Linked DNA regions of Homo sapiens: all the other regions are linked to region 2. The links come from fine-mapping of genetic effects on gene expression. A gene starts in region 2. Each other region holds a variant in brackets. All regions are shown on one strand. Distances are from middle to middle. Region 1 overlaps TUFM (Tu translation elongation factor, mitochondrial). Region 2 holds the start of LAT (linker for activation of T cells). Region 3 overlaps XPO6 (exportin 6).

The links. PIP is the estimated chance that this variant, and not a neighbour inherited with it, causes the effect.
Region 1: its variant is the best candidate, but not a certain one, in a credible set for the expression of LAT in whole blood (TOPMed, PIP 0.83).
Region 3: its variant is the best candidate, but not a certain one, in a credible set for the expression of LAT in sun-exposed skin (GTEx, PIP 0.72).

The regions. Positions count from the first base shown.
Region 1 is chr16:28,837,692-28,844,350 of GRCh38, reverse strand. It overlaps TUFM (Tu translation elongation factor, mitochondrial), which reads left to right. Exons shown (of 10, transcript NM_003321.5): 7 at 17-121; 8 at 250-401; 9 at 496-615; 10 at 1,203-1,940. The coding sequence ends at 1,376. It overlaps MIR4721 (microRNA 4721), which reads left to right and starts at 344; the gene lies at 344-432. RefSeq lists a silencer at 2,351-2,508. The variant C/T (reference allele first, on the strand shown) is at 3,088.
Region 2 is chr16:28,982,335-28,987,334 of GRCh38, reverse strand. It overlaps LAT (linker for activation of T cells), which reads right to left and starts at 2,283. Exons shown (of 12, transcript NM_001014987.2): 1 at 1,818-2,283; 2 at 1,595-1,622; 3 at 1,447-1,481; 4 at 1,119-1,200; 5 at 889-953; 6 at 766-795; 7 at 621-678; 8 at 442-536. The coding sequence starts at 1,917. SPNS1 (SPNS lysolipid transporter 1, lysophospholipid) reads right to left here. Exons shown (of 12, transcript NM_032038.3): 8 at 4,790-4,979; 9 at 4,413-4,478; 10 at 4,045-4,143; 11 at 3,378-3,549; 12 at 2,792-3,130. The coding sequence ends at 3,036. RefSeq lists silencers at 2,163-2,222, 2,243-2,522.
Region 3 is chr16:28,107,300-28,118,237 of GRCh38, reverse strand. It overlaps XPO6 (exportin 6), which reads left to right. Exons shown (of 24, transcript NM_015171.4): 15 at 776-920; 16 at 5,188-5,334; 17 at 6,232-6,421; 18 at 10,561-10,716. LOC124903669 (a long non-coding RNA gene) reads right to left here. Exons shown (of 2, transcript XR_007065032.1): 2 at 8,495-8,913. It also overlaps the pseudogene TPRKBP2. Among named protein-coding and RNA genes, the nearest start is that of GSG1L, 49 kb to the right of the region's middle. The variant C/T (reference allele first, on the strand shown) is at 6,149.

The DNA of each region.
Region 1 (6,659 bases), 140 kb after region 2:
TCTTATTCCCTCCCAGGCCGTGGCACCGTGGTGACAGGTACACTAGAGCGTGGCATTTTAAAGAAGGGAGACGAGTGTGAGCTCCTAGGACATAGCAAGAACATCCGCACTGTGGTGACAGGTTTGGGAAGCCAGTCTGGAGAGCAGGGCCTGGCTGAAGGGTGGCCTTACCCCGGCAGATCCCTTGTGCCTTCCCTCTGTCTCACATTCGCCTTCCTTCTCCCTGCTCCTTTTCCCTTTCCGTCCTAGGCATTGAGATGTTCCACAAGAGCCTGGAGAGGGCCGAGGCCGGAGATAACCTCGGGGCCCTGGTCCGAGGCTTGAAGCGGGAGGACTTGCGGCGGGGCCTGGTCATGGTCAAGCCAGGTTCCATCAAGCCCCACCAGAAGGTGGAGGCCCAGGTGAGGGCTCCAGGTGACGGTGGGCAGGGTTGAGCCAAGCTCTCCCCAGCCTCCAGCCAAGCCCAGCTCACCGTCATTGCTTGCTCTCCTCCAGGTTTACATCCTCAGCAAGGAGGAAGGTGGCCGCCACAAGCCCTTTGTGTCCCACTTCATGCCTGTCATGTTCTCCCTGACTTGGGACATGGCCTGTCGGATTATCCTGCCCCCAGAGAAGGTACGGTGGGTGGGAGGAATGTAGGGTGGAGGGGGGACTTTTTATATTACCTTTGCTTCACTCATAGTTCCAAAGATACACTGTGACAACCCGAGTGGCTTTATTTCCTTAGGTGGAAAGGGGCTGCTTGCCGCTGCTAGCCAACAGAAGGGGCATGGCCCATGGACTTAGGGGCGGGAGTCCTCATCCAGTGTGCCCTAAGCTGAAGCAGGTTAAAAGTTTAGCTCTGCCAGCATGTACCCACAGAAAGATTTCCTAGAAAAGGTCTCTTCTTTTTGAGCGTTTCATTATATATGAAGGCTTAAGAAGTTCTGTGACCAAGAAACCTGCATAACCCACAACTTCCTAGACATTTTTTTCTCAAGAACATACCTTAGGAACACTCATCACTGGTCTCTTTTATGTTTTCCTGTCTCAATATGCTGTTTGCATCTGCCTGACAGCCTGGGATGGATGAAGCTGTCCCCAGGCAGAACCATTCCCCTGCTGCATTCTCCCATGACTCTTAACCTCCGAGGTAGCCAAAAAAGACTTAAGGAATGAAGGCACCCTGGAGGCCACGCATGATCCTTCTCTTCCTACTCTAGGAGCTTGCCATGCCCGGGGAGGACCTGAAGTTCAACCTAATCTTGCGGCAGCCAATGATCTTAGAGAAAGGCCAGCGTTTCACCCTGCGAGATGGCAACCGGACTATTGGCACCGGTCTAGTCACCAACACGCTGGCCATGACTGAGGAGGAGAAGAATATCAAATGGGGTTGAGTGTGCAGATCTCTGCTCAGCTTCCCTTGCGTTTAAGGCCTGCCCTAGCCAGGGCTCCCTCCTGCTTCCAGTACCCTCTCATGGCATAGGCTGCAACCCAGCAGAGGGCAGCTAGATGGACATTTCCCCTGCTCGGAAGGGTTGGCCTGCCTGGCTGGGGAGGTCAGTAAACTTTGAATAGTAAGCCAGCCTGTGTCCTGTGTCCTTTGTGCAAATTGGAGAGGATAGGGGAGGACAAAAAGGGTGTTGAACCCCAGACAGATGGGGAGCTTGTGAGATCCCAGAGCAGTTTTAACGGATAAATCAAGTCCAGTGAGCTTAGTGATTGCCTAGACACAGTAGGATGCCGTTATTCAGCCTCCTGGGAGATAGTGGGAAAGAATGTTCTATCGCTCTGGAGCCAGCATGGCTTCAGCTCAGGTGCCAAACCCATCTTGTTTCCTCGGAATACTAAGTGAATGTCTAGCATCCATTCACATTCTGTGGGAACAGGGACTGGACAGGCATACCTCAGATGCTGTAGGTTTGCTTCCAGACTACCACAATAAAGCAGGTCACAAATTTTTTGATTTCTCAGTGAAGTTATGTTTATATTATAGTTGACCCTTGAACAATGCAGGGGTTAGGGGTGTCAGCCCTCCTCCATGCAGCCACAAATCCACATATAACTTGTTTTTGAGATGGGGCCAGCTTTGTGCAGTGGCAGTATCATAGCCAATGACTCCATGATGACTTGAAATATAATCAGCATTGGCAATTTTCGACGGTCTCTATGGGGAGGCTGAACAAAGGGAAAAAAAGAGATATAGGGTCTCACTGTCACCCAGGCTGGGTGCGGTGGCACCATCCTAGCTCACTGCAGCCTTGGACTCCTGGGCTCAACCTTGGTCTCCCCAACTGCTGGGATTAGAGGTGTAAGCTACCGTGTCTGGCTCCTCACATATAACTTGACTCCCCCAAAATGTAACTAGTAACCTGCTGCTGGCCAGAAGCCTCGCTGATAGCATACAAACACATACTTTGTGTGTTATATGTATTATATACTGTATTCTTAAAACTAGAGAGTGGCCGGGCGCGGTGGCTCACGCCTGTAATCCCAGCACTTTGGGAGATTGAGGTGGGTGGATCACAAGGTCAGGAGTTCGAGACCAGCCTGGCCAACATGGTGAAACCCTGTCTCTACTAAAAATACAAAAAAATTAGCCGGGTGTGGTGGCACATGCCTGTAATTCCAGCTACTCAGGAGGCTGAGGCAGGAGAATTGCTTGAATCCAGGAGGCGGAGGTTGCGGTGAGCTGAGATCGCGCCACTGCACTCCAGCCTGGGTGACAGAGCGAGACTCTATCTCAAAAAAAAACAAAAAAACAATAAAACTAGAGAAGGTGTTAAGAAAATCATAAGGAAAATATATTCACTATCAAGTGGAAGTGGATCATCATAAAGGCCCTCATTGTCTTCACGTTTCTTAGGAGGAGGCCAAAGGGGAGACAGGCAGACTCGGTGTAACTTGTATTTGAAAAAATTCACATGTAAGTGGATCTGTGCAGTTTGAACCCCAATCACTTAAGGGTCAACTTATTAAGTGTGTAATGTCTAAGAAAACTTGATTTAAAAATACTTGAGCCGAGGCCAGGCACGGTGGCTCACGCCTGTAATCCCAGCACTTTGGGAGGCCAAGGCAGGCAGATCACCTGAGGTCAGGAGTTCGAGA[C/T]CAGCCTGGCCATTATGATGAAACCCCGTCTCTACTAAAAATACAAAAATTAGCCAGGCGTAGTGGCAGGCGCCTGTAATTCCAGCTACTTGGGAGGCTGAGGCAGGAGAATCGCTTGAACCTGGGAGGCAGAGGTTGCAGTGAGCCAAGATCACACCATTGCACTCCAGACTGGGCAACAGAGTAAGACTCCGTCTCAAAAAAAAAAATTAGCCAGGCATGGTGGCTTGCGCTTGTAGTCTCAGCTACTCAGGAGGCTGAGGCACAAGAATCACTTGAACCCGAGAGGCAGAGGATGCAGTGAGCCGAGATTGCGCCACTGCACTCCAGCCTGGGCGACAGAGTGAGACTCTGTCTCAAAAGAAAAGAAAAAGGCCGGTCGTGGTGGCTCATGCCTGTAATCCCAGCACTTTGGGAGGCCGAGGCAGGCGGATCCCTTGAGCCCAGGAGTTCCAGAGCAGCCTGAGCAACATAGGGAGACTCTGTTTCTATATAAAAAAGAAAAAATAGCCAGGCGCGGTGGCTCACGCCTGTAATCCCAGCATTTCGGGAGGCCGAGGCGGGTGGATCATGAGGTCAGAGTTCAAGACCAGCCTGGCCAAGATGGTGAAACCCCGTCTCTACTAAAAATAAAATTAGCCGGGCGTGGTGGCAGGCACCTGTAATCCCAGCTACTTGGGAGGCTGAGGCAGGAGAATCACTTGAACCAGGGAGGCGGAGGTTGCAGTGAGCCGAGATTGCGCCAATGCACTCCAGCCTGGGCAACACAGTGAGACTCCTTCTCAAAAAAAAAAAAAAAAAAAAGGAAAGAAAAAATAAATTTAAAAAAAGAAAGAAAAAGGCCACTTCTCTAATATGCAGGGAATAAACTATGAGTGAATTTCAAAAACTTGGGAGTGATGACTGGCAAGGATGCCGACACCAAGCAAAGCAAGGCTCGGCAGAGGTTAACAGGCACCCCTATCACAAATGCATCCTGACAAATGAATACACACCCAGGATGGCTAAGATGAGCTCCCAGAAGGGAGGGCTCTTGGGCCCAACTTAAGAGCTGTTTTGAGAAAATGCAAAACCTGATTTTTGACTCCAGAACAGAGGCAAACTAAGGGAAGTGGGTGAGAGAAGAGGAAGAGGGAAGAACTTTGCAAAAAGAAGTCCAATGACAGGGCAGATTTGTCTTCTCCTCAGTGCTCAAGGCAAGGCTGACGGGCTGCCAAGAGGAATTTCTGGCTGGCTGAAGGCTAAGTTCCCTTCCAACTTTGAGATTTCTGCTCAAAGATGGTAAACATACAGTAGTCTCTGCCCTTATCCCTGGTTTCAGTTATCCACTGTCAACACTGGTCTGATTATTTCTGGAATTTTTTTTTTTTTTTTTTTGAGACAGTGTCTGTCACCCAGGCTGGAGTACCGTGGCACGATCTCGGCCCACTGCAACCTCTGCATCCCGGGTTCAAGTGATTCTCCTGCCTCAGCCTTCAAGTAGCTGGGATTACAGGCACCCACCACCACACCTGGCTAACTTGTATTTTTAGTAGAGATGGCATCTCACCATGTTGGCCAACCTGATCTCGAACTCCCGACCTCAAATAATCCACCTTCCTCGGCCTCCCAAAGTATGGGATTACAGGCGTGAACCACCGCACCCAGCTGGAATTTTCTTTTTTTTTTTTTTTTTTTCCTGAGACAGAGTCTCGCTCTGTCGCCAGGCCAGAGTGCAGTGGCACGATCTCTGCTCACTGCAACCTCCACCTCCCGGGCTCAAGCCATTCTCCTGTCTCAGCCTCCCAAGTAGCTGGGCCGACAGGGATGCGCCACTATGCCCAGCTAATTTTTGTATTTTTAGTAGGCAGGGTTTCACCATGTTGGCCAGGATGGTGTCGATCTCTTGACCTCATGATCCACCCACCTCAGCCTCCCAAAGTGCTAGGATTACAGGTGTGAGCCACCGCACCTGGCCTAGAATTTTCTATTTAACAGTTCAGATTTTAAGTTGAGCACCATTCTGAGTAGTATGATGAAATCTTTTGCCATCCTGCTCCATCCATCCTGTCAGGACGTGAACCATCCCTTTGCCTGTTAGTCACTTTAGTAGCCGTGCTGGTTATCAGATTGACCGTTACAGCACTCCAATGATTGTGTTCAAGTAGCCCTGATTTACTCAGTGATGGCCCCGAAGCACAAGAGTATTGTGCCTAATTTAGAAACTAAACCTCATCATAGCTATAGGAAAAAACATAGTATACATAAGGTTTGGTACTATGGGCATCCACTGGGGATCTCAGATCACATCCCCCCCAGATGCGGGCGGACTGCTGTACAATCTGCAGTCCTTCCAGAAAGCATCAAAATGACTACTCAGCTGGGTGTGGTGGCTCACACCTGTAATCCCCAGCACTTTGGGAGGCCAAGGCAGAACTGCTTGAGCCCAGGAGTTCAAGACCAGCCTGGCCAACATAATGGGACTCTGTCTCTTAAAAAAAAAAAAAAAATTGAAAGATTACCCAGTAATACTTGCCATATTTCATAGTAGATACCTGTCTCTCCATCTACACTTCAAATATCCTGAGCCCAGCTGAAGCCTTGCAGCTCCTGCACCACCCCACATCTACCTGCTGAGTGCTCTTGGGACTCCAACCCCGCCCATTTTTAGCATCCAAGTGGCTACCACATAAAGTCCTTTTTTTTTTTTTTTTTTTTAACCTCTTTAATAACCCCTTCTCTCCACCCCACCATGTACACCTATTACCAAGTTCCAAATCTGCATATGCTGGGATTCTTCCCCAATACTGTAGCCTTCACTCTTCCTGTCCTGGTCTCAGCCAGCTTTCTCTGGCTTTGGTGAGAGCTGAAACACCCGTCTACCACTGAGCACCAGCCACTTCCTTAAAATCCTGGAAAGGTGAAATCACCTCCATTTTAGGCAAGGAAACCAAGGTCAAGTCTCCGAGAGAATTCTCAACCTCCTTGAAAAACTACCTCCTCTGGAGCCTGCTGTCATTTCCACATCCCATGCTTCAATCTTCTTGTCCCACCCATAATGCCTAATTTTGCTCTTGCTCCCCAGTAAGCCCAGTTCCCAACCAATCCTCTCCCCTCTTCTCCCACTAACAGCTTCACCTTTACAGCTCTCATCCACAGTCAGCTGCACATCCATCAGGATTTTAATTCCAATGACCATAAACATTCACCCTTCAACATAAAGAGGTGTATGTAATTCATGAGATACTCATATTAGAAATGAAACTTTGAATCACACCTTGAGATGAAGCCAAGTTCAAGATGAGAAAATAGTCACTAGACAGCTGGGTGAGCTATCTATGTAGCAGTTCCAGAGCCAGTCAGGGACAGCATCCTTGGGAACTGTGCCACTGCTGTCCCATCCTGGGAAGCGGACTCCCATCTCACGTGCTTTTAGCCATCCGGTCATCCAGAACCTCAGTCATCAACTACACAACTTCACATGAAGTCTGGAACCCACCTTCAAATGCATGGCACAGGATCCCGATCTGGCTCCCCATCATCCTAGATTTCAAAAACTGGCCACCATTGGTGTGCAATGGAGTGATCTCAGC
Region 2 (5,000 bases):
ATAGGAGAAATAAAATTGCAGTGGAAGGGTTGAAGAATACAGACAAGGAAATCTCCCAGATGATAAAGGAAAGGACACAGAGATAGGAAAGAAGAGAGAGAAAGCTGAGAAAATCAGAAGAACAGGGCCGGGCATGGTGGCTCACGCCTATAATCCCAAGCACTTTGGGAGCCCGAGGTGGGAGGATCACTTGAGCCCAGGAGTTTAAGGCCAGCCTGGGCAACATAGTGAGACCATCTCTACAAAAAAAATTTTTTAAATAAGCTAGGTGTGGTGGCATGCGCCTGTGGTCTCAGCTACTTGGGAGGCTGAGGCCGAGTAGCCTACTTGGGAGGATCACTGGAGCCCAGGAGTTCAAGGCTGCAGCGAGCTACAATGGCACCACTGCACTCCAGCCTATCCCTAAAAAAATTTAAAAATAAAAACAAATGCCTGACTCACTGGAGAAGGCACTGTCTCGGATGCCAGGGGTGCTGAGTGCAGGAGCTGATGGGGCAGCAGTGCTAGTGGCCGGGGTGCTGTCAGGAAGCACCACCCTGAAAGGAAGTGAAAAGGGCCGGTGAGCAAGGGGGGACGCACAGCCTCAGCCCTCACCTCCCACCTCCCACCTGGCCACTCACAGGTAGCCTGGGTTGTGATAGTCGTCCTCATCCTCATCCGCATCCTCACAGGCTGGTTCTGGGGGTAACGACACAGGGGTCAGCCTAGTCCAGGACGGACCCCAGACTCCCCACCCAGCCTGGGCACCTCGGATCCCAGACGCACCCTCGTTCTCGTAGCTCGCCACACTGTTGGCTTCAAAGAGAGGGTGAGAGGGAGACTAAGTCAGCTCAGGCCAGGCCTATCTTCTTCCCAGCCCCCGCCGCCTGAACCCTTCCCCACACTTACCACCATCAGAATCCCGCCGGGAAGATGGCGTCCGGTGGGAGCCCCCAAGGGGCTGCGGGGATCTTCTGGGAGTCAAAGGTCAGGGGTCATGCCTGAGGTGGGGCTCAGGGGGCAACAGCAGTTGCAAAAGGGAAAGGGGCCCCCAATCCAAAAAAGTGAAGGGGTAGAGAGTGGAGTTTGGAGGGGGAGGGGCTGAGCTTTGGAGGGGCAGGGGCTGAGCAGCTACTCACGGGATGGGGAGCAGGTCTGGCTGGCTCAGGGGTGGGTAGGAGGTGACAGGTGGGTAGGCAGGTGGCCAGGGGGCAACCGTGTCTGAGGACACAGAACCAAGTTGAAAGAAGGACTCCGGACATCGTCAAGGCCTCAAAGAACAGACTAAGCCCCTGAAAGCCCCACACCCTGGACAGGCCTGGGGGAGCCATCTCCCCTCTCCCAGCTCAGGTCAAGGCCATGTGGGCAGCCCCAAGGTGGCAGGGGAAGTCTGAAGGTTCACGCTCACTCCCACACCAGGGGACCCTCTCCCTGGCACCCAAGGTAGGGGACCCTCCTTGTACTCACGAGGCCGTTTGAACTGGATGCCCCTTGGATACAAACTGGTAAAGGAGACACAGCTTGGGGATGGGGCTGGAAGATGGAGGATGGAAGCCCCAGCCCTGCCCCGCCATGGGGTGTGGAGGGAGACCCAGGGCGGCTGGGGCGGACTCACCTATCTGAGGATGTGCTGTCGTAGGAGCCTGGGAAAGAGAGGGCTGGTGAGGCAGGAACAGGGGGTGCTTAGGGCAGAAGGTGCTGGGATCCAGGGACTCTCAGAGGCGCTGGGATCAGGACGGAGGCAGGGACAGAGCCAGGACAGACACAGGGGCTGGGAGTGGATGAGGATCCCGTCGGTGTCCCTGGGCCCTGGGTACCCCCACCAGTTTCCCACTCACCTGGCAGTCTGTGGCAGTGCACACACAGTGCCATCAACATGGCCAGGATGGGCAGCAGCAGGAGCCCCAGCACGCAGGGGACCAGGATGGCCTCCTCCATCTGCAGGGGAGCTCGGAGCAGGCTGGCTGCACCCCTAGGCCCCTCAAGGGCAGAGTCAAGGCCAGATGAAGATGGGGTGAGGACCGGACCCGGCAGGGAGCAGGGGGCAGGTAGGCACCAGGTGGCAGGGGAGCCCGGGAGGAGGCAGCTGTGCCCTCCCCGGGGCTCCCGGGATGGGTCCCCTCTTTTACTGGGCTGAGTGTGCGTCCAGCTGACTGTGGAAAGTCCCTGCTCCCAGGGTGGTCAGACCAGGGCCTGGGCTGAAGTCGGGGGATCCAGTTACCCCTGCGTCCCAGCCCTACCTGCCCCTCCTCGGCGCCCGCCTCTCCGTGCCCGCCCTCCCGCCCGCCTGCGGCAGGAAGCTGTGGTGAGCGCCGGGCGAGGGCAGGAAATCATCAAGCTCTCAGCCGGCTGCACCCGCCCCCTTCCCACCCCACCCGCCAGTGGGGAGGGGGCAGGAGGAGGCCCGGGAGCCACCCCAGGCACTCACCAAGGGTCTGCTGGCCCCCCCCAAGACGGGGACAGCCACCTGCCAGCTGGCAGCCGTGGCCTCCATATCCAGGACCCGGGGAGGCAGCGAGCAGGGAGGCCCTGACAGTGGGAATTCTGGGGTACAAAGGGCAGTGCCCACCCCCACCTCAGCCAGGCCTGTGAGGCAAGGGACAGGCTCCAGGGAAGCAGGGGCGTGACTCACGGTCACACTCAGCCAGCTCACTCGGAGAAGAGCAGTCCCCCATCTCAGTCGCCCAGCCCAGAAGGGCAGAGACTCACCCAGAGCCCTGAGGAATGACCCACAGTCTTCAGGAGCCCTGGGGTGAAGACGGGGTGCAAGATCAGAGGCCACCCAGAGAAAGACGAGAGCAGGCACCTGGGGTCTGGCTACAAATTTTATTCCGTTACAAATAGCACCGAGCCCTTGGGGCTGCCCCTGTGGAGAGGGATCCCCCTCCTGGACCCCCACCTCCTCCCCTGAGCTACCCAGGTAGTGTCTGGGAGCTGGCACACGGCCCAGGGTCCCTCTGGAAGCTGGGCCAGGCCAAGGGGTTAGGCCCAGGCCCTTCGTGGGGTGGGCCCAGGGCCAGCTGTGGCAGATGTGCAGGTAGGTGAGCGGCAGCCTCTCAGATGAGCACACTGGCCACGGGCACGCGGGTGGAGCGGCCCCGCTGGGGCACCACAATCCGGTCGTCTGTGGACCCTGCTTCGTGCAGCAGGCCTGAGGGGGGAGGGTCAGAGCCAGGGTGAGCTGGATGGACAGACAGACAAAGCCAGAGAAGGGCAAACAGGCAGCGGGAAATGGATGGGGCAGCCACAGAGCCACCCCAGGGGTGGATGCAGACAGACTGGAGGCCAAACAAGGGGAGGGCTGTGGACTGAGCTGCCAGGTGCACAGGAGTGGGCAGACAGATGGACAGACAGACAGGCAGATCAAGAAGCTGGGCCGGGCACAGCTCCTAACTGACCCTGCACGTGCAGCTGTGCCCGCCGGCGGTCGGCCTCAATGAAGATGGCGGTGCCCAGGAAGGCTGCGCCGCCCAGTGCCCCAACAAACGCGCAGAGCATGAGCGAGAACTGCAGAGCCCGGAACTCGGACAAGAAGGAGGGGGGCCAGTTCCGGCGCAGGCGGTCAGAGATCTGCAGGGAGAGGAGACAGGAAAGCCAGGGGAGTCAGCCTCATGGATGAACCAGGGAGGGCACGCCCCTGAGCTCCAGGGAGAAAGACAAGTGGAGCCCAGGAAAGGGAAGGAGGTTTGAGCTAGATGCAGTGGCTCATGCCTATCATCCCAGCTACTCAGGAGGCTGAGGTGGGAGGATCGCTTGAGCCCAGGAGGTCGAGGCTGCAGTGAGCCATGATCGTGCCACTACACTGCAGCCTGGGCAACAGAGTGAGGTCTTGTCTCAGGAAGAAAAGAAAAGAGAAAAGAAAGGAGGAGTTTGGACCACCAGGGTGAGGTCCCTGGCCTTACTGGTAGAAATATTCAAAGACAAAATCTTTCTCCTCCAGTTGACAATGGAAGGTGAGAAGTGCCCAGCACGCAGGACACAGACACTTCACTAGGGCCAGGCCTTCTGATCCAGCCCAGGCTCAGGACACCAGCCACCCCATGCCAGCCAAGAAATAATGCTCACCAGGCCAATGAGGTAGGGGCTCCCAGCATCACCCAGCAGGTGGGACAGCACGATCTGGAAGGCCTCGGCGGTGGAGCGTCGGGTAGGGATCACCACGTACTGTGGAGGAGTTGGTGGAGCTCAGTGGATGCTCTGGGCTCCAGGGGGCAGGAGGCAGGGGGCCAGGAGACCACCAAGGATCCGCCTAGGCCGGGGTCAGAGGTGTGCCTGGGGTTGAGGTCGCAGGGCAGGCCGGGGGTCTGCTACAGATGTTATTTATTGCAGAAGGTAGGTTGAGGCTGGGCTTTGAGGGGTAGAGGCAACACTCCTGACCCCAACTCTGCTCTCATCAGCCTCTGCGCTGACCCTGGAGCTGCCCAGCAACTCACCAGCAGAATGTCGGCCACGATGGCCCAGTTCATGGACAGGAGGGTCTCTCCAATGAAGATGAAAATCTGGGGGAAGAGAGGGTCGGGGGTTCATGACAGTAAGGGCTAACACATGGAAAGTTGACCATGTTCCCAGCTCATCTATTAACTAATTTAATCCTCATCACACCCCAGTGAGACAGGTGCTACTAATATCCCCATTTTACACATGATGAAACTGAGCACAGAGAGGTTAAGTCACTTGTCCAATGTCACACAGCTGGGAAGAGCCAGAGCTGTGATTCAAAACCAGGCATTCCACCTCGAGTGGCCATTACGCTGACTGCTCCTCCACCCTGGACCCACGCCATCCCCCTTGACACCTGCTGGCTACTCACATAAGTGGCCACGATGCTACCACGGGCGCAGGCAAGGGACAGGAAGAGGAAGGGTGCAGAGCCCAGGAGGCCAGTGGCACAGACCAGGGGATCAGCCCGGGGGTTGGAGTGGCGGAGCCGGCGGCTGATCTCCACACCCAGGCCCACACCCAGGACTCCGGTCAGGCAGGTGATGAGTCCAAAGATGAGACTAGGGGTGAGGGAAGGGAAT
Region 3 (10,938 bases), 870 kb after region 2:
GTAATACTGATTTAGGCAGGAGTCGTTAATAAATGCCCAAACCATGAGGAACACTGTCTTTGTGTCACCTCATAGTAGTACCACCTTACAACTTACTAATTATTACCGAAAGGTAATTACATTTAGGTATGTTGGAAGGCTTGGTGTTTTGAAGCTCCGAGACAACTGTCTCTCCTTGTTTAAGATTGATTGTTTATTATATTTGATGAATTGCATACTTTTTTGATGTATATTTTGTTGCATGTACGATGCAGTCAGTACAGCCTTTGCTGAAACCAAACATAGTCTTTGCCGCCTCAGTTATTCCCTAGCCAGGTGGAATGTGTGGTGCAGTGGAAGCTTAAACTCCAAAATCTGACATCAAAGCTCTGTTTATAAAGCTGTCACACCTGGTAGTTGTCTACGCTTTAGTCTGCAGCTAGGAATGTTAAATTTGTACTAGTTCTGAAGTCAACACATGATCACTTAAGTTCTTTGATTTTGCTTTTATAATTTACCTTTCTCTTAGGTGAGCATGTGTCACAGAAAGATTGAATAAGATTCAGTAGACATTGACTAACTGCCTTCTGTGCTCTAGTCAGCGGTGGCAATGTTTAGATGATGAATATCTTAGTTTTTAGGTTCTACGTGAACCGGTAAATGATTTCTATGCTGTTGCCCATGTCTTAGAACAGCAAATGCAGTGGATGCAATTCTTACCTCCTATGAAAATGAGTTGAACGCTAATATATTTTCACCTTAACCTTTAAAATCACATCTTCTTTTCTTTCTGCAGGCATGCTCAGTCCCTGGCTGCGCTGCAGGCTTACTCTCACTGGTTAGCACAGTATTGCAGTGAAGTTCACCGGCAGAACACGCAGCAGTTCGTGACACTCATCTCTACTACCATGGATGCAATCACACCTCTAATCAGCACCAAGGTCTCGAAACAGCAAAGCCTACACCTTTTATCTAACTCTCTGTCTCTCCTTCTGTTCCTATACCCATTTACTAGAAAATCTAAATATGACACAGAGTTAGACCCATAAATCTTTCTGCTGTTATACATCTGTTTTATTTCATGTTCCTTTTTAGTTGTAGCCTACATGCATTCAGATACAACTTTACTTTTTTAGTTATCTGAGTTCCACATGAATACATGCTCACTGTGAAAAAGTAAAATATCATTCAGATTTCCAGACTAAAAAGTTGTGATACCTCTGAAACATTTTCCTTCGCGCGGTAAGCACAGTTGGGCAGTGGTTGTGCAGGCACACCTCATTTTATTGCACTTCCCTTTATTGCGCTTCACAGAGACTGTGTTTTTTACAAGTTGAAGGCTTATGGCAACCCTGCATCAAGCAAATCTGTCAGCACCATTTTTTTGACAGTATTTGGTGCTTCCATGTGTTACATTTTGGTAATTGTTAGAATATTTCAGACTTTTTTGTTACTATATCTTACAGCGATTTGTGATCAGTGATCTTTAATGTTACTATTGTAATTATTTTGGAGTGCCACAAACCAAAGACTGCAAACTTGATTGATAAATGTGTGTGTTCTGACTGCTCCACTGATTGGAGGCTTCCCCATCTTCCTGTCTTTAGGCCTCCCTATTCCCTGAGCCATTTAATAACCCTACAATGACCTTTACGTGTTCGAGTGAAAGGAAGAGTCACATGTCTCTTACTTTAAATAAAAATCTAGAAATGATTAAGCTTAGTGAGGAAGGCGTGTCAAAAGCCAGGATAGGCCAAAGGCTCTTTTTTTTTTTTTTTTGTCGTTTTTGTTGTTGTTGAGATGGAGTCTCGCTCTGTCGCCCGGGCTGGAGTGCAGTGGCGTGATCTTGGCTCACTGCAAGCTCCGTCTCCCGGGTTCACGCCATTCTCCTGCCTCAGCCTCTTGAGTAGCTGGGACTACTGGCGCCTGCCGCCTTGCCTGGCTAATTTTTTTGTATTTTTTGTAGAGACGGGGTTTCACCATGTTAGCCAGGATGGTCTTGATCTCCTGACCTCATGATCTGCCCGCCTTGGCCTCCCAAAGTGCTGGGATTACGGGCGTGAGCCACCGCGCCCGGCCTGGCCAAAGGCTCTTGAGCCAAACAGCCAAGTTGTGAATGCAAAGGAAAAGTTCTTGGAGGAGATTAAAATTTCTGCTTCAGTGAACACATGAGTGATGAGAAAGTACAACAGCCTTGTTGTTGATATGAGGAAGGTTTCAGTGGTTTGGATAGACCAAGCTAGCCACAACATTCCCTTAAGCCAAAGCCAAATCCAGATCAGGCCCTTCAATTCTGTGAAGGCTGAGAGAGGTGAGGAAGCTACAGAAGAAGAGTTGGAAGCTAACACAGGTTGGTTCATGAGGTTTAAGGAAAGAAGCCATCTCCAGGATGAAGCAGCAAGTGCTGATGGAGAAGCTGCAGCAAGTTCTCCAGAAGTTCTAGATCACTGCTGAAGGTGGCCATACTAAACAACAGATTTTCTGTGTAGATGAGACAGCTTTATACTGGAAGAAGGTGCCATCTGGGACTTGGATAGCCAGAGAGGAGGAGTCAGTGCCTGGCTTCAGAGGACAGGCCAACTCTCTTGTCAGGGGGCAACTGCAACTGGAGACTTCAGGTTGAAGCCAGTGCTCATGTATCATTCTGAAAATCCTAGGGCCCTTAGGAATTATGCTGAATCTACTTTGCCTGTCTCTATAAATGGAACAACAAAGCCTGAATGACAGCACATCTGTTTACATCATGGTTTACTGAATATTTTAAGCTCATTATGGAGACCTGCTCAGAAAAAAAGATTCCTTTCAAAATCTGCTGATTGGCAATGCACCTGGTTACCTAAGGACTCAGATGGAGATGTTCAAAGATATTAGTTTCCATAGTTTCCATGGCTGCTCACACAACATCCATTCTGTAGTTCTGTAGCCCATGGGTCAAGGGGTAATTTTGGCTTTCAAGTCTTACTGTTTCAGAAATACGTTTCATAAGACTATAGCTGCCATAGATGGTGGTTCCTCCAGTGGATCTGGGCAAATAAACTGAAAACCTTCTGGGAAGGATTCACCATTCTAGATGCCATTAAAGACATTCATGATTCATGGAAGCAGATCAAAATATCAGCATTAATGGGAGTTTGGAAGAAGTTGGTTCCCAGCCTCATAGATGACTTTAAGGGGTTCAGGACTTCAGTAAAGAAAGTAACTGCAGATGTGGAAATAACAGGAGAACTAGAGGCGGAGTCTGAAGATGGGATGGAATTGCTGCAATCTCAGGATCAAGCTTGAACAGATGGGGACTTGCTTCTTGTAAATGACCAAAGAAAGTGGGTTTTTGAGATGGAATCAACTGGTGAAGATGCTGTGAACATTGTTGAAATAACAGAGGATTAGAATAACACATAAACTCAGTTGATGAAGCAGCAGCAGGGTTTGAGAGGACTGACTCCAACTTTGAAAGAAGTTCTACTGTGGGCAAAATGCTATGAAACGGCACCGCATGCTCCAGAGAAATATTTCATGAAAGGAAGTCAATCGATGCAGCAAACTTCATTGTTGTCTTATTTTAAGTAATTGCCACAGCCACCCCAACTTTGAGCAACCACCACCCTGTTCAGTCAGCAGCAGTCACTTTCAAGGAAGACCCTTCACCAGCAAAAAGATTACCGCTCTGAAGGCTCAGATGATTGTTAGCATTTTTAGCAATAAACTACTTTTTAACTAAGATATGTACATTGTTTTCTTAGACATAATGCTTATTGCACACTTTATAGACTATAGTGTAAACAAAACATATGCATTGGGAAACAAAAAAATTAGTGTGCCTTGCGTTATTGCATAATTTGCTTTATTGTGGTGGTCTGGAGCTGAACCTGCAGTATCTCTGAGGTATGCCTGTATATCCTTCCAGACTTTTTTCTCTTTTTATGTAATAAGTAATAACTAAGTTTGTAGATAGCTGGAGATATAGCTGCTTTTGCCTAACAGTATGCCTTCATTTTCCTTTACATATGTACAGCAACTTCAGATTGTCAAAATGTCCAGTGGTTTTTTTTTTTTTTTTTTGTGAGGATGTATAATAATTTTCCTATTGCTAGAAATGAGTTCCTTTTATGTCCATCTTACATATGCTAGTGGGCCTGAAGGATAGATTCCTGGAAGTGGAATTACTGAGTCAAAGGTTATATCCATGTTAAAACTGGACAGATTCTATTATGTTATCCTCCAAGTCTGCTATATTACTAGAGCATATATGTGTTTATTCTTTGAATTTTTTTGTAGTTTTAGTCATACATAACATTTTATACATTTTTAAACAGTGTATTGTTTTAATAACAATGTGTTGCTTTCCATAAATTTATGTTGTATTTATAATTATAACTTTGAAAATAGTCCTATCCCATCAGGAATATGTTTCATTATTTTCCTAGCCATTGCTGGACTTCTAGGCTGCCTCCCTTAAAAAATAAAAAATTATAAAGAATTCTGAAATGCACACATTCATGAATGTAGCTTTACCCTTTTAGGTAATCTTCTTAGAGTAAGTATTATAGGTTATAGGTAATCTTAGAGTAAGGGTTAAAGGTTAGGAATATTTTGTGACTTTGGGAAATCATAGTAATTTTTTTCCCGAAGTAATTCTGCCTGCCTTGACTTTTTGGTGTGCTGTTTTTATCTTAGTCTTACCAGCATTAGGTCCCATCTGTAACACGTTTTTCTCCTTTGCTAATTTGAAAGCAACAGTGGTAATTGAACCAAGTATTTGATAGGCATGCTGAAGGGAAAGCAGTAGGAGAGACTGGCCTGAGTGTTAAGGCACAGAAGAGTCGGGGGCTCGGGGAGATCTTGGCTCTGCTGGAACAATTAGTGAGGTGAAGAATTCTAGGACCTGGATGACATGCCAGGGAGTGTGATTTAATAGCTGATAGGGAGCCACTGCAGACTCTAAGCTGAGAAGTGCCTGAGTTCAAGGCTGCTGGTGACTGTGAAGGAGGAACGGGAGGAGGTGATAATGGCTGCGGCAGGAGCTGTGGACATGACAGAGAAGATGGGCTTCTCTTGTAGTCATCATAGGAAAAATTCTTGAGCTAGATAGGGCCTAGGTGGTGTAATTTGGAAACCAAGAATGACACATAGCTTGTGGCTGCCTCAGCAAAGTTCGAATCCCAGTCTTACAGGGATGTGGTGAGCTGACGTGCCCTCTTCCCTCTGCAGGTCCAAGACAAGCTGCTGCTATCTGCGTGCCACTTACTGGTCTCACTGGCCACCACCGTGCGGCCCGTCTTTCTGATCAGCATCCCTGCAGTGCAGAAAGTATTCAACAGAATCACTGATGCCTCTGCCCTGCGACTTGTCGATAAGGTGAGGCCCCAGAGCTCCCCCGGGGTCCCCAGGGCTGTGTGACTGAGACCCAAGGAAGCTGAGGAAGAAGAGTCTGGCCTTTGATTTTGTACTCAGAGCTTACAGGCTGTACCAGCATAGACAGATTTCTTATTGTGTGGCACTGACACAGACTCAGTGATTCTCATCGTGCCCATTCTAAGGCAGGCAGTCAGTGTGCTGATTGAGGCGTGGAAAAGCACCTCCCAGTGTGCAGAAAGGTTTTGCTGCTTTGCAGCCTGGTAATTTCGGCCAGTGTTGTGAGAATTCTCTTTGCATTCTTTCTGATTCAAAGCAGTCTGGTTTTTGTTGTCACTGTTCTGTGTGTGTTCTTTGGGGTTGAGAAGTGCCAGGCAAGTGCATTTTCTTAGAATCCTCAAAGGAGGCTCAAGCTAGAAGTTTAAAAACCACCTAACAGGAGGGAGGGCAGGAAGGTTTGAAGAGGGTACCAGAGGGCACCAGGATGTGATTGCAGGATGTGACCTGGTGCTAGGGGCATGGATTGTCACGGATTCTCCTGCAAGTCCTGCTCTAAGTAGCTTCTCAGAGGACTCAGAAGCCACCAGCTGAACAATGCCTGAGATTCAGTGTCTGCAGTGTGATTTTTCCCTCTCTAATACTTCAAGTATCAGATTAGAGAGGAAACGAGAGGTTAGCTCTGGGTTATGCTAGACCTAGACATGGTGCTATTACTTCATTTCATCTTCCTCCCTAAGTTGCCTTCCAGTTGGACCAAAGGCCTTGCCCAGGTTGCAAGAAACGAGCCTGGGGGCTAGGGTTCCAGGTGTGCAGCCAG[C/T]GGGTGCTGAAGGCTGTGTTGGGCATGCCGCACCACGGTCTTTGGCTCTGACCTCTGATGGATGCCTTTGGGGTCTCTTGTAGGCCCAGGTGTTGGTGTGCCGAGCCCTCTCTAACATCTTGCTGCTTCCGTGGCCAAACCTTCCAGAGAATGAGCAGCAGTGGCCCGTGCGCTCCATCAACCACGCCAGCCTCATCTCTGCACTCTCCCGGGACTATCGCAACCTGAAGCCCAGTGCTGTTGCCCCACAGAGAAAGATGCCACTGGATGACAGTAAGTGACCCCTAGGCTAGGACAGCTGGGGAAGGAGGTAGGCAGGCATTGTTCTTTGTGGCAGATGAGATTTGCCCCGGAGGCTCCTGAGGTAAATTTTTTTTGTTCATAGTCCCACAGAGGCTGAGCAGGAAGTCATACTTGGGGGTGGGATCCTGCTACCTTTGGAATTCAGTTAAGACAGCAGCCAGACCTATTTCCAGAATCAAACTGTCCCTTCTCTTATTTAAAATGTAAAAAATGCTGGAGCCCTAAGAAAAAATGGAAGACACTGGTGATGGTGCCTTCTGTCTATAAAATACATCTTAAGGTGGTTATTGATCTATTTCAGATGCTTGTGTAGGCAAACAAAGCAGTTCACCTCTACACGCTGGGAAAATGCGCTCAAGAACTATTTTTCCAGATTGGTTTCAACCTTTTTCCAAATACAGATCTTCCAGAGGTTTTGAAAGAGCTTAGTTTCTTAAAAAATGGCACTTGAAGTTTGCTTGTTTATATTAAAGAAAGAGGGAAAAAAATGAATAAGGAAATATCTCTTTGAAATAACAAATAGTACCGAAATATTTTAAAAATACGAGCTCCTTTCACAAAAAGAAAATAATAGAACATTATTAGATGGTGCCATTTATGGAATGTCAGCAAAAATGCTTTGTGAAATGTCAGAAATAGTAATAAATACTATACTCTTTAAAAAACACTACTTTTATAACTAGGAAGATTAACATATGTGCATTGTACAAATACATTAAAATAGAATAATACAAAGAAGGAAAAAGTAACTCCTAAATCTGACCAGTTTTAATATTTTAGAAAGTAACCATTTTAACCATGCTTCCTTCTTACCTTCCCTTTTCTATTTTAAAATATGCTTCATGGTTACATAGCTGGATGAGAGTAGCTGACATATTGAGGGTATACTGTGTACTAGGCTCTTGCCTTGGTGATTCTATATCCATCGTCAAGTCTCTGGCTATGCCAGTATCAACTTTCAAAGTCTGGTGTTGGTCTCTTCCTGGTTCTAAGTATTTTTCAAAAATCAGTAATTCATTCAGTTCTTACATTAGCCTTATGAGTTCGGTACTGTTAGGATCTTGATTGATGATTAGCATGAGGAAGCTGAGGTCTAGAAGATTAAGGAACTTGCCCAGGGCTTGCATCCAGCTGTTGTGGAGTCATGCTTTATCACGTGTAATGGTCTCCTTTCCGCACTTTATCTTACATGGGAGTTATGTTGGTCTGCATGGGCGAGGATATGCTCAGTGGTAACAAACAACTCCAAAAGTGTAGTGGCTTAATACAAGAAGAAAAAGGATATGTTGTTTGTACTATATGTCCAGCTTGGGTCAGCAGAGTGGGGAGGTCACATAGGGACCCAGGCTGTGGAAGGCTCCATTTCAGTGTGTTCACTCTGGAAGGGATTGTGGTGAATTGCGTAGTGGTTCTTAAAGGTCTTGCCTGAAACTAACACTACTTCCACCTCTATTTCCTTGGCCAGAGCCAGCTACATGGCCTTGGCTTAACTCAGAGGGCAGGGAGGTGTGATGCCACTGTGTGCTGAAAGGGTTTGCAGTGTAGTATGTGAATGACGTCTTCAGTATGCTGACTGTGTGCAGGCACTGGGTTGAGCACTTTGTATACGTTATTTCATGTAACTTCCTGTGTAACCCTGTAACCCTGTGAGGTATGTCTTATCCTCATTCCACAGTGTTGAAATTAAGGTTGGAAAGTTTCATTTTTCTTATCTCAACTTTATACTTTGAAAAAAAAAAATTCCAAACCTACAGACTAGCCAAAGGAATAAGAAAATGAACAACTGCATCTCTCTCACCCAGATTCACTAATTGTGAATGTTTTGCCACATTTATGCTTTTTTCTGCAACACACTTTTTCTTAAAAGCCAGCTGTTTAAGTTGCAGATAATTGACACTTCATCTCTGACTACTTAACCTTTGTATCTATATAGAACAAGATATTAAACATTGGTACAATAATGTTATTTAAAATGTAGCCATATTAACACTTTCCCCAGTTGTTACCAAATTGTTCTTTTTTGCTTTTAAAAAATCCAGGATGTAATCTAGGATAGTTTTATTGTGTTTGGTTGTTATATCTCTTTAGTCTCCTTTGATCCAGAAGAGCATGCCCAGTTTTTGTCTTTCGTGACATTGGCATTTTTGAAGCGTCCAGGCCTGTTTTCTTGTCATATGTCTCCTAGTCTTGTTTTGCCTGATTGTTTCCATAGGTTGTGGTGTAGTGGTGCATGTTCGTGTTCGCATTTCCTCTTGCATTGCTTCTGTTTGTCCCATCCTTGGTGATGCTCAGTCTGGATGCCTGTTGGGAGTAGGGCCTGCCAGTCTGTCCATTGGGAAGGTGCTTGGCAGGTGTAATTGCTCAGGACTGTAGAGAAAGTGGGCGAGGTCAAGAGTTGGACTTGGGTCTGAATGGCTCCAGCTCCTGTGTTCTGCACCACTTTGCTGCATTGCCTCTTTCTTCTTGAAAACAAAAAAAAAAAAAAGAAAAGAAAAAAGGTTTTAATGGTTTTATAATGTCCTGTCTCATGGAAGTATAACAGTTACCCACCCCATTCTCCTATTATTATATACTTATAGTGCTTTCAATTTTTGACTTGTATTTTTTTTAAATACATCTTTTGTCCTCGTTTGAATTTCCTTAAATGCCAGAGGTCAGATTTTGGTCTCTTGACTGTTGGTTTTTTGCTCTAAACTGCTTCCCCTGTTGCCTGTGCGTTCTTGAGGAAGTGGCTGCCCTGAGTGCAGTTTCCTAGCTGAGTAGAAGTCCATGTGCTTGTAGTTGTGGACGGCTCCCTGCTCAGCAGTGTGGGTGAGCCTTTCCTTTACTCTCCAGTGTCACTGTGACTGGGGGACCAGGACCAGGCCTGTGGCGAGAAGCGTCTTCCTTCATCCTCAGCCCTGTGAGTGGGGCGATGCTCTCTATCCACGTGTTCAGATGAGGGGCAGCAGGGCCAGGCCTGCCTCCATCTGCCTCCTGAGCATGTCTTCTTTCTGCCGTACCCCTTCCTCAAAGCTGCGGCAGTCCCACAGAGGCTGCTGAGCACTGGGGTTCGGGGGACCCAGAGACTGCTGCCAAGTGGGAGGCAGCTCTCAGCCCAGCTCTGGCTCAGCCTCTGGTGGTCGCCAGGGTTGAGTCTGCTAGGCTCAGGCTGAGCCATGGGCGTCACTTTGGGGAGGCTGGTGGGAAACTCTGCATCTTAAGAGGGTGACTCCACTCGCGCTGGGAACAATGGCAGCATCTCCGTCCTGGACCTTCTTAGATGGCTGGCACACTGCTAGCATCGTTCGGGACCTTGTCTCTAATCCCCACTGCAGCACTGCCAGAGTGGGGTTGTCGGCTCTCCCAGATGGATGAGGGTCCTGCCCATGGCACATAGCCTTCAGATGGTCACCTGTGGTTCATAGCCAGGGCTCTCTGACCTCTGCCTGTTTGCGGCCCACTACATCTGTTTTCCCTGTGTGCCATATGGAGTCAAAAGTCATCTCAGGGTTAGCATTATGTATTGTCAATAACATAATAACAGTAATTATATGCCTTATCAAGCTACGGGGCTAATAGGCCAAAGATGGATCAGGCAGGTTGTTCTTGCAGCCAGCACCATTACATGTGCATGGCAGGTGTTTGTGGGATTACTGGGCTGGAGTAGCATCCCACTGAGTGACAAGGTTTGAGCTGCATGTGTCCGTCCTGGCCTGTGACCTTATGACACTCATTTTCTCACCAGTCTATTCACCATCTTTTAGATTTGATTAAATCCAAGGCACCCAACCTGGGGGTACATTTATTTATCTTTTTTCTTCTGTGGACTTGTTGCCAATGGCCAGAGGCAAAACAGAGGCAAAAACCTGAGCAAGCAGGCAGGCAGGCATCTTCTCCCCAACACACATTCCAGGCTTCTGGAGTCCTGGCAGTAATAATAGTAAAAACAAAAACTAAAACATAAAGAGAGGAGAATTTATATTGTAATCAAGAGACTGTTCCTTTAGTGAGACTCGTGTGATCATCTTCTTGGTACCTTTGCAAGTTTCCTCCCTCTCCCTTGTGTCTCCTCTTACCATGCTTTCTCCCCAGACAGCTTATAACCTGCAACTCATCTTGATTTGCAGCCAAACTGATTATCCACCAGACACTCAGCGTCTTAGAAGATATTGTGGAGAATATCTCGGGGGAGTCCACCAAGTCTCGACAGATTTGCTACCAGTCGCTGCAGGAATCTGTTCAGGTCTCCCTGGCCCTCTTTCCAGCTTTTATCCATCAGTCAGGTAGGAGCTGGCCCAGAGGCCCCACTGGTGGGTGGTGCTAACAAGGGCCAGAATACCCACTTAGATCTGTAGAACACACTGAGTCGGTGCAGTACAGGCCTTGACTTGTTCCGTGCAACGAAACCCGGTACTGAGGGGAAAGGGCAGTGATGTTTATTTGTGGAGTCTAGGGCCAAGGCCCTTTGGAAAAGTGAGCAGAGCTCTCCATATGGGCCTTGGCAC